3 separate regions of the Homo sapiens genome follow, and all the other regions are linked to region 3. Evidence: fine-mapped expression QTL. A gene starts in region 3. Each other region holds a variant in brackets. All regions are shown on one strand. Distances are from middle to middle.

Region 1 (2,500 bases), 99 kb before region 3:
TCTATCAACTGCAAGTCTGAGGGAAGATGCCAGTCCCACCAATTCTGACCAATGGTTCTGGGTTGAGTTAAATGAATATAGTACCACATTCTGCTCCTCACTAAGCTTCTTCGTTAACACACCTATAACAACTACTTTAGTAGCCTGAGCACAAAGCTCTGGAAAGCTGTCTTTGCCCTTCTTTCACTATGCCTCGATCGATCATGGGAGCCAAGGAAGCACCTGCTGGCCTTGTGAGTGCCTCTTAGGATCTAGCACCTAACTGGTTAAAGTCTGTTATCCATGACTAGCTCTATTTTATGGCCTTCATACAGTACATGTTGCAGCACTGCTCAATTTGCAAACAGTGAAATTTATCAGGAATCTATATTCTCTTGAATCTGATCTTAAGTGCTAAACCTCTCATTAGCATTAAAAATTCTTTTTTATAGTATGTCCACATTAAATGCTCAATAAAGAAGTGTTACTTAGAGAAAACATGGAAGATTTCTTTAAGAAAGGAACCATGCTTTCCTCTCCAGCGCAGCCAATGGGCTGAAGGCCTGTTTCCATTCTCCATTCTTCCAGCATAAATCTACAACTCACTGGCAGCACAACCTGATTTAACAGGCACCCATCATCCAGACCAGAACACCTATGGCATGTAAACAGGGTGAGATGGCAAAAAGTACAAATTCATAGGTCCTTTCTGATGGAGAACTAAAAGGAAGGTCTTATGAGACAATAAGCGCACACGTGCCATTGTGCGTACACAAGAACAAGTCGAACGTCTCAACAAAGATTTACTTCCACAGAGCCTTGCGCGGCACACTACGCTCACGTCTCACTAGAAAGGAGTCACTTGGGTTATTTTTTTTTCCCCTTTCTTAACACAGCACAAGCCAATGGCCAGCTAGACATTCAGACCCGTTGTTGAATGTTGGATAGAAGGGAGCAGCATCAGACACAAAATTTCAGGCCCTGGTTTCATGTGCCTTTAATACTTGTTTTTCCTTTCCTCTGTATTCACTAAACA[AT/A]TTTTTTTTTTTTGTAAGGCTACTTTTGTAGCTTTTTGTTTTCCCTTTGTATTTATCATGTTTTTAATTTCTTCTCTGAGGAGGAATTCTCTGAATCTGTATCTTCCAATTCAATTCGTTGCCTTTTGAGGCCACTGTGGCCATGAACAGCCCTGCTACTATCTGTGGCTGGGGTGTCAGTGGGGTCCTCTCTTGTTCCAGCATTGGGGGTCTCACAGGCCATTTCAGACCCGCAACAATCTTTGTGTAGGAGTGTCCCTGTCAGGGACGAGTTATCACGGTCAGTGTCTGAGTGTCCTGGGGAAGAGTAGGCCACCACCTCCAGCTCCCCCAAGTTCTGCCCGTTATTGTGAGGGTGAGGGGGACGAGGGTGTAAGCGTCCATTGTTGTGGTTGGCACAGATGGTTTCGAGGCTCCTCTCCTCACTGTCATCAGACTGGGTCCTGGGACAGTTGCCAGACCCGCTGTTGAGAGTGGAGCCAGATGCCTTGGGGACAGGAGGAGAAGGCGGCTCCTCAGCCCGACTGCTCAGGGCCTTTCCATTGAGCTTCTTGGTTTCAAAAGGGTGCTCTACAGAGCCGCTATTGCCAGTGTCCTGAGAGGTACCCTCTGGCACCTCTGCCCAAGCATGGCTGCTGTGCTCATGGCCTGGGCCATTGCTGGGAGTTCTAGGAGTCTCTTCTTTAAAAGTGTCCTTGCTGCAGCCTTCAGGTGGCAGGTCCTGGTTCCTCTGGGCCATTGCTATGTTTAGACAGGCTTCCTTACTGGAAGAAGGGGCTGGGTTGTCTTTGTGGCTGGTTCCTGCTCTCCCTTCATCTGCCTCCCCGGTCACCAAGGAGGTCTCTCCATCTTTGTTATTTGAGTAGGAGATATAAGAGTAGCGGAGCCACTTGTAAGCTTTATAAATTTTTCGCTCAACTGATTCTATGTCAGAAGTTGGTGATGCCCGGCTTGGTTGAATCTCTAGCGTGGAAGTGCTCCGCTCAGGGGACGAGGTTGGGGAGGAGGAGAGGTCATCCACTTTGATCTGGGGGTAATCATAGTTGTCTTCTCCAATGTAAGTGTTGGTGGGCTTGATTGGGGCACTGGGCTTGTCTTCTCGGGTTGTCTTCTGTCGGCGCCGCATGGCATTCCGCTGCCAGGTAGAGGCTCGGCGTTCATTCAGCTCCTCCTCATCCTCAGAGCTGCTAGAGCTGCTGGAACTGCTGGATTCATCTTCGGGGCTGGGTGACCGTGGCCGGGGAAAGAGATCTGTGTCTAGTTCCACCTCACAGACATTCTCCTCAGAATCGGACTCATTGGAAAGGGCCAGGAGGCGTTTGTCTTGGTAGCGCCGCAGAGCAGACAGACGCTGCTGGCGAGAGGCTGCATCCTCACACGTGGGTGTTGGTGGAGTTGAGGCTACTGTGTTTGTGGTGGTGACCCGCAGGGGCCCCAGGTGGAAGGCGTTGTCGGCAGACTCATCTACTGTGGGAGGCGGGGAG
Region 2 (2,849 bases), 540 kb before region 3:
GCAGCCCATTTCTCCATAACTTGCTCAGAAGCACATTTTAGTTGTTTTAAGAATGACTCGATTTTTGGAGTCAGAGAGGTTGGGGCTAGAGTTTAGGGCCTGCTGTTGTGTGGCCATTCAGAACGCCCAATTTAAATCTAAATGCGTAAAATCAAAAGAGTGGTGAATGTGAACATGCTTTTTTATAAACTGTAAAGTGCCTCACTGTGATCCTTTATTCTTTCAATTCAGCCTATGAGTGCAAGTTAGCAATAGACTTTAAAGAACTCATACTGCAGGAAAGTAAGCATAGATACTAAAATACAAAATTCAACCTCTACTGCCTATGACACGATTTTTCAGGCCTCAGAGGCAGCCTGGTAGCAACCACAGCTAAGAACAAAGGTCCTAAGAGCTGGACTTTTTGAAAAAATAGATTCTGTAGCCTTTGTAGGGAGGAGTTGGTCTGAGTTGAACCATATTGCTGAGAAGAGTCTCTCATTAAGCCTTTATCCATTATCAACACTGGGGCATAAAATCATTTATACCAAATACTTATTTTTTTAATTGAGATATAATTGACATACCATAAAATTCACCCTCTTAAAGTGTACAATTCCATGATTTTTAGTATATTCACAAAATTGTGCAATTATCACCATTATCTAGTTCCGAATATTTTCATCACCCCCAAAAGAGTCTCCATATGCATTGGCAGTCACTCCCCATTCCTCCTTCCCCTTTCCTCTGGCAACCACTATTCTACTATCCATCTCTATGGATTTGCTTATTCTGGACATTTCATATAAATGGAATTATACAATATGTGACCTTTTGTGTTTGGCTTCTTTCAGTGAGCATAGTGTTTTCAAGGTTCATCCATGTTGTAGCATGTATTGGAATGTCATTTGTTTTCATAGCTGAATAATATTCCATGGTATGGATAAACCACATTTTGTTTATCTGTTCATCAGTTGATGCACATTTGAGTTGTTTCCACTTTCTGGCTAAAATGAATAATGCTGCTATGAACATTCATATACAGTGTGTGTGGACATGGATTTTCAATACTCTTGGGTACATACCTAGGAGTAGAAATGCTAGTCATATGAGCAATTGACCTAGCTTTCTTGGAGTGCACTGGCATGATCTCAGCTCACTGCAACCTCCGCCTCCTGGGTTCAAGCGATTCTCCTGCCTCAGCCTCCCAAGTAGCTGGGACTACAGCTGCATG[C/A]CACCAGGCCCAGCTAATTTTTGTATTTTTGGTAGAGATGGGATTTCACCATGTTGGCCAAGATGGTCTCGATCTCTTGACCTTGTGATCCACCCGCCTTGGCCTCCCAAAGTGCTGGGATCATCTGTATCCTTACTGGTTTACTGATTTTTCTGACTATTTGTTTTATTAATTCTTGAGAGAGGAATGATGAAATGTATATATTCAAACTATGACTGTGGTTTTGTCTATTTCCTCTTTAACTTTTGTCAGTTTTTGATTCATATATTATGAAGTTCTGTTAGCAGGTACAGAAACATTTAGAATTGTTAAATCTTCTTAAATTTTTCTTTTTTTTTTTTGAGACGGAGTCTCGCTCTGTCGCCCAGGCTGGAGTGCAGTGGCGTGATATCTGCTCACTGCAAGCTCTGCCTCCCGGGTTCACACCATTCTCCTGCTTCAGCCTCCCGAGTAGCTGGGACTACAGGCGTCCACCACAACGCCCAGCTAATTTTTTGTATTTTTATTAGAGATGGGGTTTCACTGTGTTAGCCAGGATGGTCTCGATGTCCTGACCTCATGATCTGCCTGCCTCAGCCTCCCAAAGTGCTGGGATTACAGGCGTGAGCCACTGCACCTGGCTTAAATTTTCCTTTTTGTCACTATGAAATTGTCTCTCTTTATCTCTGGTGCTATTCCTTGTCCTAAAGTCTTCTTTTTTTATTATTAATATAGCTACTCCAGCTCTCTTGTGATAAGCATTGCACAGCATATCTTTTTTCATTCTTTTACTTTTAAACTATTTGTGTTTTTATATTTAAAATGAATTTCTTGCTTTTTAAATCCAGTCTGATAGTGCCTGACCTTTAATTGGGGTATTTGGACCATTTGCATTTAATTACAAGTACATGTAACATACATGTTTGGTTTAGGTATGTCATCTTACTATTTGTTTTCTACTCATTCCATCTGTTCTTTGTTACCTTTTGCATCTTTCCTTGCCTTCTTTTGAAGTGAGGGTTCTTTTTTGTTATTTCATTTTATCTAGACCATTGACTTTTAGCTACATGCTCTTGTCCTTTGTGCTATTGCTGCTATAAATTTTATTTCTGCATATGTTATGAACTCTACAGTACTTTATTATTTTTGCTTTAATATTTTAAAGAAATTTTTAATGAAAAATTTTAATATTTATCCTCATGTTTCCCATTTCTGGTGCTCTTCATTCTTTTGTGTAGATCCAAGTATTATTTTCCTTCTTTGTAAAAAACTTATGTTAACATTTCTTTAGGGTAGATCTGCTGATGGTGAATTGTCTAAGCTTTCATTTATCTCAAAAAGTCTTCATTATATCGCTGGATACAGAATTTGATTTGTGTATCATTCAGTATATCAAAGAAAGTATTCCATTGTCTTCTGGCTTGCATTGTTTTGATCAGAAGTCTGCAGTATTTCCTATACTCTCTATGACACTATAAAATACAGCTTTTTTCAGACTACTTTTAAGATTTTCTCTTTATTACTAATTTTAGTAATTTATTATGATGTACTTTGGTATGATGGTGTGATTTCCCTTGCTTATTTTGATTGGGGTTCATTGTGATTCCTGGATCTGTGGTATTTATAGTTTTTAACAAATTTGGAAAATTTTCAGCCT
Region 3 (2,849 bases):
CACCCTACCGCCTGCCTCGCAAGTTGCGCATTCAAGTTCAGGCTGGTGCCCTTTAGCCTCCACAGCCCTCGCCACTCTCGAAACTGTATTAAAAACAAGACGCAGAAGAGGCCACAACCGAACGAAAGGCGATGGTGCTGGGCCTCTAAGAGCGCCGAGGGGGGCGGCCCACAGCGACCCTACCGCCCCAGTCACTTCCCCTCTGCAGACCCCGCCAGCCCCCGGGTCGCAGCCCCCGGCCCCTCGGCGTCCGGGTCTGTCACCGCCCGCTTCCCAGCCCCAAGACCCCTTTTCCTTAACGCCGGCGACGGGGGCTTCAGCTCCCCCTTGCCTCCGGCGCTCCTCGGCCTCCTCACCCTCCACATCCCCAAAATGCCCCCAGCACCTTTTAAAGTACGCGGAGGAAGAGTTTGCCGTCAAACTTTGTAGAGCGGTAACCTCGCCCCCCTCCCCGACCTACACTTTCAGGGCAGGCATCAGGAGAGATCACTTTGCACTTGGGATAAAGCGAATTAAGGAGCTGTCAACCATTTTAGGTCTTTTTTATAGAAGACATCCTCTCCTTCCCCTCCCCCTGCAATGGTTTTAATTTGACACCAAACCTTCCCACCGCAGAAGGGGGTAGAGAAAGGGAGGGGGTGGGGACAGAGGGCAGGAGGAGGGTGACGGGGGAGAGCGAGAGGGGGAGGCTGGGAGGGTGCGGGGAGGCGCGGGGAGGGGAAGGGGGTTGATTTACCTGAGACCAGCCACTGGCCTCCATTGTTGGAGAATTCAATGGCATTGACACAGCCGAAGTGGCCGAGGAGGTCCTTCTTGTAGAGGTTTCTGCAGCCCCGCAGGCGTCTCCTCTGAAAGTCCTGAGTGAGCAGGGGGTCCCCATGCAAGCCCCGCTGGGACAAGAAGCCCACCACTGACCTCATGCTGCCCCCCAGGCCAGCTCTCCTCTTCATGCTGGAACCGCCGCCGCCGCCGCTCGCGCCGCCGCCCCTCCCTCGGCCTCACGCGCGGCCGCTGCTCCCCCCACCCGGCCCTCCCCCCGCGCTGCGATCCGGATGGTTCTTTAACCAGCCATGGCAGGCAGAGCGAGGTGTGCAGACACTCGGCGGCGTTCGCGGCTTCCTGACGGTCCCCTCCCTCTCCTTCCCCCCGAGGCTCCTCCCTCTGCCTCTCCGCCTCCTCCAGCAGCTGATCCTCAGCTGCCGCCGCGCTTCCGCGATGCGCGGCCCTTCCGCCGGCTGCGGGGCCCCGAGAACGCGGCGTCGGCGCCCCTCCCCTCCGCGGGGGGCTGGCCGGAAGAACGCGGGCGGCCGGCCCGGAGACCACGGGCGCCGGCTGCTTTCCCAGTTGAGCCGCTTCCCGCCTGGGGACCTGGGTGGCGCCGGGCGGAGACCCCTCTGCACCCCAGCGCCCCGCACTCCGCGGAGTTGAATGCGCGTAACAATCCGAGTGGCCGCCGGGCTTTGGCTCGCCTTCCTCCCGCGGGGACCCGCGGGCCGGCTGCTGCCCGGAGGCCAGCGCCCGTACGAGTTCGGGGAAAATGCGGCTGGAGTGGGGGAAGGTGCGGGCGGGGGCTCCGGCCCTCCTTCCTCTGCTGGCCTCTGCCTTGGGCAGTCCGGCCCTGCCCGAGGCGGGGGAACCGGGAGGTAGGGCCGCACACTTGGAGGAACGTTGCCTGGGGGTTTTGTTCGCGCACCCGCCCCTTCCCCTCTCCCGGTAAATGTTTAACACCACCGCTCATCCCCAAGTCCAGTTCTCTAACTCTTCCTTCCTCCGGTCCTTTAGTTGAAAAAGGCTAAATTGTTCCGTCTGGCAGATTAGAGTGGTACATGGGGGGAAAGAGAAAGGGATAAAGAAGTAGGAAGAAAATTGCCAAAACCGAGTTGATGAAGTCCCGAGAAGCACGAGGTACTTCTCTCCGTTCCAGATAAATTTGCACGACACAAGAAGCGTGATTTGAAACTAACGATATATGTTATTTAATTGGGTTCGGTGAGCTCCTCTTAAAGGTCTCGAGTGGGGAGCACTGAGGTTGGACAGCTGTTAACCAGCAGCTGCGCTCCAGGCCAGAAGTGGCTGCACTTCAGTAGGATGGGAGTCACCGCGTTGACCCTAGTGGGTGTTAAATGCTTTGGAATTCTACCAGATACAGTTAAAAGTCCCCTTTTCGATGTATTATAGTACTTTTCCTGGAAGCTATCCTCTGTCATTAAGTGGTAATAAGCTACTGAAATAGGCACTTGTCAGTTTTGCCCTTTCAAGTTAGCAGGAATTACATCCTCTGGACCAGAGATGGCACAGGAGCAGTTGAGTAGAATCATCATTGAAAGATGGGCTGTACATCTCTGATCTGGGGAAAATAATAATAATTTTTTTTAAAAAAAAAGATCGGCTGAACATGGAAGAGGTTTACCCGTCAAACAAAATTATTTACTTCTACTTTTTGTTCAGTGACAATACGATTAATCGTACTAATAACAAATATGCAAATGTTTCATATAAAAGTACATATTCTAGCAAACATTACTAAACAGAAACCAAATTCCATCAGAACTTGGGGAAAAGGGCAAAAAATAAATAAATTTTTAAAAGAAAGAAATCAAATTCCAAAAATGTGAATTTTAATGGAATATTGTTCCCCTAAATAGGAAACTATGTGGTACTTAAAAGGTTTTATCCTCAGGATGCCTTCTAATAATCCTTTGTGTTTATTCATTATAATCACCACCTAAAAATTAGTAGCAGTATACCAGCTTTATTAAAGATGTATAGCACCAAACATCCTTCTGTCATTGCAATGTCAAAATGTGTAATTAATCATTTATTTTTGTGATGATATGAGTCTCCCCACT

Alleles and levels. Alleles are on the strand shown, and positions count from the first base shown. SD is a standard deviation of normalised expression in the study named. Not every link is listed here.
For the expression in thyroid of the gene that starts at base 1,091 in region 3, allele A in region 2 goes with a lower level than allele C (large effect, 0.77 SD a copy in GTEx).

The links. PIP is the estimated chance that this variant, and not a neighbour inherited with it, causes the effect.
Region 1: its variant is fine-mapped to the expression of DCAF5 in whole blood (INTERVAL, PIP above 0.99).
Region 2: its variant is fine-mapped to the expression of DCAF5 in thyroid (GTEx, PIP above 0.99).

Annotation. Positions count from the first base shown.
Region 1 is chr14:69,052,786-69,055,285 of GRCh38, forward strand. DCAF5 (DDB1 and CUL4 associated factor 5) reads right to left here. Exons shown (of 9, transcript NM_003861.3): 9 at 1-2,500. The coding sequence ends at 1,072. Among named protein-coding and RNA genes, the nearest start is that of ACTN1-DT, 74 kb to the left of the region's middle. RefSeq lists an enhancer at 2,112-2,500. The variant AT/A (reference allele first, on the strand shown) is at 1,016.
Region 2 is chr14:68,613,810-68,616,658 of GRCh38, forward strand. It overlaps a transcript of RAD51B not described here. Among named protein-coding and RNA genes, the nearest start is that of RAD51B-AS1, 70 kb to the right of the region's middle. The variant C/A (reference allele first, on the strand shown) is at 1,214.
Region 3 is chr14:69,152,029-69,154,877 of GRCh38, forward strand. DCAF5 (DDB1 and CUL4 associated factor 5) reads right to left here and starts at 1,091. Exons shown (of 9, transcript NM_003861.3): 1 at 737-1,091. The coding sequence starts at 950. RefSeq lists silencers at 26-75, 896-1,535.